2 separate regions of the Homo sapiens genome follow, and region 2 is linked to region 1. The links come from fine-mapping of genetic effects on gene expression. A gene starts in region 1. The other region holds a variant in brackets. All regions are shown on one strand. Distances are between the middles of the regions.

Region 1 (4,509 bases):
GCGTCTCACAGGTGCGTCTCACAGGTGTGTCTCACAGGTGTGTCTCACAGGTGCATCTCACAGGTGCATGTCACAGGTGCATCTCACAGGTAAGCCTTACAGGTGCGTCTCACAGCTGTGTCTCACAGGTGTGTCTCACAGGTGTGCCTCACAGGTGTGTCTTTTTGACTGTGTCAAGTCCAACCCAATCAGGGTCCCCCAGCATCATCAGTAGGTATGTAGGGAAGTGAGATGGGGAAAAGATAGAACCAATAGTGTGCCATGGAGCAGTTACCTCTGGGCCCCTGCAGGTAAGGGAGCTGCGGTGTTCACACACAACTCCCATGGTCATGGCTCAGGGTTCCCCAGAGGCTGTGGACTCCTTGCCGCCCTGAACCTACTCACCTACAATCACGACGGGCTCCTGGGGCAGGACAAAGCCACAGGTGAGGAACGCGGTGCTGCGGGTGGAAGCTGCTGTCACAGTCGTGTTAGGGTGAGTGGACTATGGCCGCAGACTGTGGGCTCCTCCCAGCCAACCCTCACTCCCGCTAGCGCCCCAAATCTTCAGTCCAGCACCCCTTCCCCGTCCCACCCACTCTCCACACTGAGCCCTCCCAGCCAACCCTCACTCCCGCTAGCACCACAAATCCTCAGCCCAGCACCCCTTCCCTGTCCCACCTGCTCTCCACACTGAGCCCAGCCACTCCACGCTCCCTTGGGCAGGTGGCAAGGCAGAGCCTGAGGTCAGCTGCCACCCCCAGCCCCACCCCAGGGCCCTCATGCCCCCAGCAAGGCCTCTCCAGCTCTGCGGTCCCACTCAAGATGCGCTTAGCTCATTTCACACGCAGGTGAGTGTCTCAGTTCTGCGGGCACGGAGGCCCCTGTGGGAGGGAGGTTGGCAGGCCCCTCGCTGACGGAGGGGAGCAAGGGGCAAAGTGGGGGTGTCCAGAAGGGGGTTGTGAGGAACTGGGGGACGGGAAAGAGCCCGGAGAGGAAAAAGGAGGTGGGGAGGGGCTGCGTGTGCATAGACCTCAGGGTGGGGCAACCGAGGACCTGAAGGCTGGTTTCCGGCCGCCATCCTCACATCCAGGCGCAATGTGAGCTCATCCCTGGGAGTTGGGAAATGCAACCGGCAGGCTCTGGAGGCTGTTCTGGGACTGAATGCAAAGCAGGCGACCCTCCCCCCGGCCCCAAACCCAAGCACTGCAGCGGCCCCACAACCCCTCCCCCCACCCACATCCCCACTCCCCCGTCCCCAGTGAGAATTCACTATTTTTAGGAAAAAGGGGAAGCCTCTCAGCAGATCCTTGAAAGGAAGTGACTTTGTGACTAAGTGGAGGCAGGAACATCATGGCACAAGGGCACACGTCGCACACCCAGCTGGGCCCACTGTGGACGGCGCAGATGCTGCCTCAGAGCAGCCTCCGAGACAGGCAGCTGCAGCGGTGCAGCCCAGGGCCCTCGCAGAAGCTTCCCCGGGGCCTGGCCTCGTGCTGAGAGAACTCTGCGCTCCTGAGGGCACCTGGCTGTCATGCACACGTGCTCACACGAACACACACACCTACACGTGCGCACACTCACACTCCGTGCACACACGTATGTGCACACTCATGCACGCGTGCACACACGTCTACCAGCTGAGTGCAGTAAAAGAACCACATGAAAACCTTGCATCCTGGTTAAAAGTATGGTGACAACATGGACAGATAAACTGGAAAAGATGGGAAGAAACCTTAAGCCCAGGATCTGGCAGCACAAAGGTGCCTGGAAAGCGACAATCAGCGTTTTTATATTCAGGGAAATCAGGAACACTGCCACCCGCCCGCCAGGCCGGCGCCCATGCCAGACCCAGCCAAGGTGCTTCTGGCCACATCACCCCTGCTGGCCTGCAGGGAGCTGGCCCAGGAGCCGAGAGGCCTATGGGAGCAGGCAAGGCTTGCTGAGGTGACAGCGGAGAGGAGAGGTCGGGCTTTGTTGCCAGGCAGCCCCCCAACATTCAGGTCCTTTTTCCACTGAAAGCCATGTGGCCTCAGAGCGGCGTCACCCCGAAGCTTGTCCCAGCCGGGGCCTGACAGCAGGTAAAGGCTGACTAGCAACTCTGCATCCCTCAGAGTGTGGGGGAAGGTGGATGTGGTCCCACCTCCACATCCAGGGTCCCCTTGCTGGCCTCTGGGCATTTGGGTCCTGGTGTGATTACCCAGCCCCCTCTCCCTGCACAGGGGTGAACTGCATCTCCTGGAGGCAGGGCCAGTGCCCCACCACCTCCCCAGCACACCCGAGCCCAGGTCTGGGCTCCCAGGAGGGCCTGGGGCCACCTGTGGGACCAACCCAAACCCTCAGGCAGCTCCACCAGCAGAAAGCGTCATGCTGTGTGTGGGATAACCTCCTCAGGGGATTAGTTCTCAGGGCCTGGTCCGCTAGAAGCCAAATGCCTGTGCCCAGCCACCCGTGACGCCTGCAACAGGCAGGAGATCCCCCAACAGTTACTCCCAGCCTTCATTCCACAGGGTCTGGTTTTCCTGGAAGGTGGGAAGTCCCAGGGTCTGAGGAGAGGGAGCGCAGGCCCCCATTTGTAGGAGTGAGTCAGCTGACCCGCCCCCGGGGTTCCTAATCTCACTAAGAAAGACTTTGCTGATGACAGGGTTTCCTGGGAGTCCATGCGTGCCTGGAGCAGCAGCGTCTCCAGGGACAGGCAGCCACCATGAGCCTCAGTGAGGAGCAGGCCCGGAGCTTTCTGGACCAGAACCCCGATTTTGCCCGCCAGTACTTTGGGAAGAAACTGAGCCCTGAGAATGTGGCCGCGGCCTGCGAGGACGGGTGCCCGCCGGACTGCGACAGCCTCCGGGACCTCTGCCAGGTGGAGGAGAGCACGGCGCTGCTGGAGCTGGTGCAGGATATGCAGGAGAGCATCAACATGGAGCGCGTGGTCTTCAAGGTCCTGCGGCGCCTCTGCACCCTCCTGCAGGCCGACCGCTGCAGCCTCTTCATGTACCGCCAGCGCAACGGCGTGGCCGAGCTGGCCACCAGGCTTTTCAGCGTGCAGCCGGACAGCGTCCTGGAGGACTGCCTGGTGCCCCCCGACTCCGAGATCGTCTTCCCACTGGACATCGGGGTCGTGGGCCACGTGGCTCAGACCAAAAAGATGGTGAACGTCGAGGACGTGGCCGAGGTGGGTCTGTGCGGAGCCTCAGGGAGGCGGCTGTGTGCATCTCTTGCACCTGTCCCAGGTGTCTAAGGGTCAGCTCGGATCCTCAGGCCTCCAGGGAGGCCTCTTGTCAGGGCACAGGCTAGTTCTGTGCTGAGGAGCAAGTACCTAGAGCCCCCTCCCGGCACTGTGCCCTGGCCGCCTGCCTCTCCGACTCGGCTTCTGGCTCAAGCTGACATCGCATGGCCACTGAGTTGGTTAGACCTGAGTCTAGGAGCCTCGGCTGAAGCAGACTCAGGCTCAAACCGGGGTGCCCCTGATTCTGCATCCACATCCCATGGTGGGGACCATGTAGTCCCTGTGAGGACCCCTGGCTTCCAGGAAGACTGACCAGATGGGGGCTTCAGGGCTCTCTGGGCTGGGAGGGAGGCCCTGCCTTGGGATTTGGGAAGAAGAGGTCACAGTCGAAGGTGGTGCAGACGCCCACAGGGAGGGAGAGCCAGGGGAACCCCAAACTTCCACTGTGGCAGAAGCAGCTTTATCCCATGGGAGCCCACGCCAGCCGCCAGGGGAGAACAAACCTGGTAGCCACTGAGCACAGGGGTCCAGGGTGGGACTGGGGAGGGACAAGAGACAGAATCGAGACAGGCTCACTGGAGTCACTGAAGGAGGGAAGGGCAGGGCCTGTTCATGCAAAGCCTGGGCTAGGGCAGACGCTTCCCGAGGACAGAGGCGGTCCTGGCGGGACTGGAGAACAAGAGGGGTGTGAGGTGCCTGCCAGACTGGGTGAGGGCAGCGGCCAGCAGAGACCTGGAAAGGCCCTGAGGAGCTGCCCGGCAAGGGGGCTCTGAGGAAGAAGGGGAGGGGGGAAGCCCCTTCTCCCTGTCCTGCACCCGTCCCAGCTTCCTCTCCCCTTTTCTGTCCCCACAGCTAAGGAGGCTGCAAGAGGCCCAGGCAGCCTCCGCTCTTGCTGGATGAGCCTTGGGAATTACCCACCAGGCTGCCAGCCCAGGGGCAGGTGTGGTCCCTCCTTCCCAGGCAGCTGGGGAGTGGCAATCCTGGTTTGTTTTCGTTTGTGGGTTTTTTTTTTTTTTGAGACAGAGTCTTGCTCTGTCACCAGGCTGGAGTACAGTGGCATGATGTCAGCTCACTGCAACCTCCGTCTCCCACGTTCAAGCGATTCTCCTGCCTTGGCCTCCTGAGTAGCTAGGACTAGAGGTGCCCGCCACCACACCCGGCTAATTTTTGTATTTTTAATAGAGACAGAGTTTCGTCATGTTGGTCAGGCTGTTCTCGAACTCCTGACCTCAGGTGATCAACCTGCCTCAGATTTCCAAAGTGCTGGGATAACAGGCGTGAGCCACCGCACCAGGCCGGAAGTG
Region 2 (4,000 bases), 30 kb after region 1:
CGATGTTCTCAAAGCCCTGCTCGCCGCAGGTGGTTCTGGAGCAGCCGGGCGGAGGAAGGGCTGGTCGGATGTTTGCCTGTCAAGCTCAAAGCGACAGATTCCACTTTCCACTCGTCCACTCCTGAGTGATCAGGGACACGACCGCAGCCTCGAGGCCTCACCGCCAGCCAGCTCCCGGGCCCCACAAGCTCAGATGAAACCTGGCCACGGAGCCACCAATCAGGGTCTGTGCCAGGCTCCACGGCTGGGCAGGTGGTCAGATCAGGGAGCGCACCTGTGTCAGGCTTGAGTTAAACCCCTGCTGCTGTGGTCAGACCGGCGTGAGGGTGGGAGTGGCCACAGGCCCACAGGTGTGCCCCTCCCTCCAGGTGCTGCTGTGGTCGGCCAACAAGGTGTTTGAGGAGCTGACGGACATCGAGAGGCAGTTCCACAAGGCCTTCTACACGGTGCGGGCCTACCTCAACTGCGAGCGGTACTCCGTGGGCCTCCTGGACATGACCAAGGAGAAGGTGAGGCTTCCGTGGCTCAGGGACCCCCTGCCTGGCCCGACCCAGGTCCCGCAGTGACCGCCCCACCCTCACCTCTTCTCTGCCCAGGAATTTTTTGACGTGTGGTCTGTGCTGATGGGAGAGTCCCAGCCGTACTCGGGCCCACGCACGCCTGATGGCCGGGTGAGTCTTAGGGGAGGGGCCCAGGGCCTGTCCACACGCCTCTGTTTCCCTGACTCCAACTCCAGGGCAGGAGAGGGAGGGATAGGGGTGGGGTTTAGGGAGGTGGGAACTGGCCGGTGGGACCCCGGGTGCCTGTCTGTGGTCTCCACCAGGCTCCCCTGCTGCTGCACTCCAGGGATGGGGTGTCCAGGGCTGGTCCCTGAATGAGGGCCGCCAGGCTGGTCGTGAAGACCCACGTCGGCTCTGATTGTGGGGGCTCCTGCTGCCCCATCTCCCCACGTGGGACCTCCTGTGCACGTGTAGGATGCGTGTGTGTGTGTGTGTGTGAGAGTACGGGCCCAGCTTGTGTGTGGGATTGTGCGGAACACAGACTGGGAAGACAGATGTAAACCGCGGCGTGTGATGCGTGTCCCGTGAGTATTGGGGACGGTCTGCATGTGTGTGCACCCTGAGCCTGTGCATGTGTGGACATGGGTGTGAGTGCACCCGCATTCGTAGAATACCTGCGCACGGCGGAGACATCTGTTCACGTGTGTACACATGCACGGTTACGTGTGTGGGGGTGTGCATGCGTGTGGCTGTGTGTAGCTGCATGTAGCTGTGTGTGTGTGTGTGAGCCCCTCAGAGCTTGGCCAGGCAGCCCCCCGACCAGTGTCTTCTGCTTCTCAGGAAATTGTCTTCTACAAAGTGATCGACTACGTCCTCCACGGCAAGGAGGAGATCAAGGTCATTCCGTAAGTGCAGGATTTTACCAGAAGCGTCCCCGGGGGAGGGACCGCCCCTCAGACCCCGGCTCAGCCCCCAGGGCCGTCCTCCCAGGGCTTCCCACGGTGCAGTCAGCAGCACCGGCCTGGCCTGGCCCCACCTGTGGTGCTCTGTGTGCCGTGGGGCATAGTGGAGTTGGGGGTGAGACAGAAGCCGACTCACTGTTCTGGGAGATGGTGAGGAGGACGTGGGCTGCTGAGGAGCCCGAGTCACTGTGGACATCCAGAGTGGACATACAGGGGACCAGGCAAGCTGTCCAGGCGGCCTCGTCAGCAACAATTGAGCATGAAGGCCCCAGGATTTGACCCTGGCACCACCAGCCCCACCCAGACAGTGGAGCCTCCAGCCAGGAGGCCGAGTCTTGGCCCCGTGGGGCTGGAAGAGGAGGGGAACTCCAGTCCGGAGGTCAGGGCAGGACTCCAGCCAAGGGAGGGGCAGCTGGTGGCCCAGTGGCCCTGTGATCCCATAAGCCTATTGGGACCCCATCCCCAGGCCCCAAGCAGGAACCAGGATCCAGGTGCCAGGCTTGAGCACAAGTCAGGGTCAGGGTGGCAGGGCAGGCACCAACGCTGAGTCCTAGAAAGCAGGCTGAAGCCATACGGCCTCCGGAGAGGGAGGGGTTCCCAAGAGGGAGGGGCCCCAGCACGGCAGCCTGGGGAGGAGGAAGAAGGCAGCACAGCCGTCCTCCAACCCACGCCCTGGCCTCCTCGCCTCCTGAACCCCCTGGCACTCAGAGAAGAGAGTAAATGCTGAGGATGGCACATGAGCCAGAGACCCCCAGACCCCTGCACACACGCCCAGTCCATCTGACCCCAGTACACCTACATCCAGCGCAGCCTGGCCCCTCTGACCCCTGCACACACACGTGCAGCCCAGACCAGCCCCTCTGACCCCTGCACACACACGTGCAGCCTAGACCAGCCCCTCTCA[C/A]CCCTGCACACAGACATCCAGTCCCTCTGACTCCTGCACGCGCACATCCAGCCCGGCGTGGCCTATCTGACCCCTGCTCTCTGCCCACAGCACACCCTCAGCCGATCACTGGGCCCTGGCCAGCGGCCTTCCAAGCTACGTGGCAGAAAGCGGCTTTGTGAGTCCCGTGCTGTCTGGAGTCCCCACAGCCTTGCCCTCACTGGGTGCGGCGATGTGTGCTTCTCCTTGTCTCTGCCACGTCCCGCCCTCCCGGCCAGCTCCACGTGCCTCAGTGAAGCCCCCAGCTGCCCTGCTTTACCTACTTAAAAGCTCACCTCAGGGCCACAGAGGCCATTTTAGATCATAACAGACCTTCCGCTGTTTTGGATGAAATCGTTTTTCTGATGCTTTTTCAGATTTGTAACATCATGAATGCTTCCGCTGACGAAATGTTCAAATTTCAGGTATCTGTCTGTGCCTTGGTAGAAATTATACTTACTTACAAAAGAGGAGATTTTGATTCAGCGATGATGAAGTGAATTCGTTTTTGCCACTTAAAAAACAACTTCAGCCAGGCATGGTGGCTCACGCCTGTAATCCCAGCACTTTGGGAGGCTGAGGCGGGTGGATCACCTGGGGCTGTGACCACAGCCCCCACACACGCCCGCAAGGCCGTGACCGCGGCCCCCACACACCCCTGCGAGGCCGTGACCGCGGCCCCCACACACCCCTGCGAGGCCGTGACCGCGGCCCCCACACACCCCTGCGAGGCCGTGACCGCCGCCCCACACACATGCCCATGAAACCACTCCTGGTGGGAAAACGGCCTCTACCTCCTCCGGTGGGAAAATATCATGACACAAAAACCATGGACACAAACTCCAAATGCAGAGAGGGAGAGAGGGAATGCAGAGAGCAGAGACAGGAACACGAGCCCAGCCGTCACGGCTCTAGGGGAGAAGACATGAGGTCACTCTCCCCGGCCACACGCCCGGGCCAGGGCCAGCCTCAGGGCGGAGCTCAGCTCTGGACACCGCTCCCGCAGGAAGGGGCCCTGGACGACTCCGGGTGGCTCATCAAGAATGTGCTGTCCATGCCCATCGTCAACAAGAAGGAGGAGATTGTGGGAGTCGCCACATTTTACAACAGGAAAGACGGGAAGCCCTTTGACGAACAGGACGAGGTTCTCATGGAGGTAAGCACCTGGGCAGACGTGGTTCCGCCGGGGATGCCCTGCGAGGGGTGGGGCCTGTGCGGTGTGGGGGCCTCCCCGCCAAGCATTCGGCTGTGTGCGTGTGCTCATGTGTGTGCGGTATGCATGCGGCCAGGGAGAGGACGACAAAGGGCCCCCCCGGGAGCAGGAGCCTCTGCAGAGCACCCGGGAGACCCCACACAGAAGCACTGCGACACCATGGTGGCAGCCCCAGGACCTGCCCGCCGAGCCACGGGGCCTGGCACACAGGCACATGGGAGGGGGCGCGCCGGGAGCGCTGAGCGCCAGTGACACTGCCATCCCCTCCAGTCCCTGACACAGTTCCTGGGCTGGTCAGTGATGAACACCGACACCTACGACAAGATGAACAAGCTGGAGAACCGCAAGGACATCGCACAGGACATGGTCCTTTACCACGTGAAGTGCGACAGGGACGAGATCC

Alleles and levels. Alleles are on the strand shown, and positions count from the first base shown. SD is a standard deviation of normalised expression in the study named.
For the expression in caudate of the gene that starts at base 2,630 in region 1, C is the high allele of the variant in region 2 and A is the other (small effect, 0.27 SD a copy in GTEx).

Evidence for each region. PIP is the estimated chance that this variant, and not a neighbour inherited with it, causes the effect.
Region 2: its variant is the best candidate, but not a certain one, in a credible set for the expression of PDE6B in caudate (GTEx, PIP 0.53).

What each region holds. Positions count from the first base shown.
Region 1 is chr4:622,944-627,452 of GRCh38, forward strand. PDE6B (phosphodiesterase 6B) reads left to right here and starts at 2,630. Exons shown (of 22, transcript NM_000283.4): 1 at 2,630-3,151. The coding sequence starts at 2,684. RefSeq lists enhancers at 326-1,316, 2,306-3,295, 3,296-4,284.
Region 2 is chr4:653,484-657,483 of GRCh38, forward strand. It overlaps PDE6B (phosphodiesterase 6B), which reads left to right. Exons shown (of 22, transcript NM_000283.4): 4 at 369-509; 5 at 597-671; 6 at 1,341-1,405; 7 at 2,457-2,523; 8 at 2,762-2,809; 9 at 3,391-3,540; 10 at 3,868-4,000. It overlaps PDE6B-AS1 (PDE6B antisense RNA 1), which reads right to left and starts at 1,717. Exons shown (of 4, transcript NR_183811.1): 1 at 1,599-1,717; 2 at 582-730; 3 at 275-488; 4 at 1-200. The variant C/A (reference allele first, on the strand shown) is at 2,367.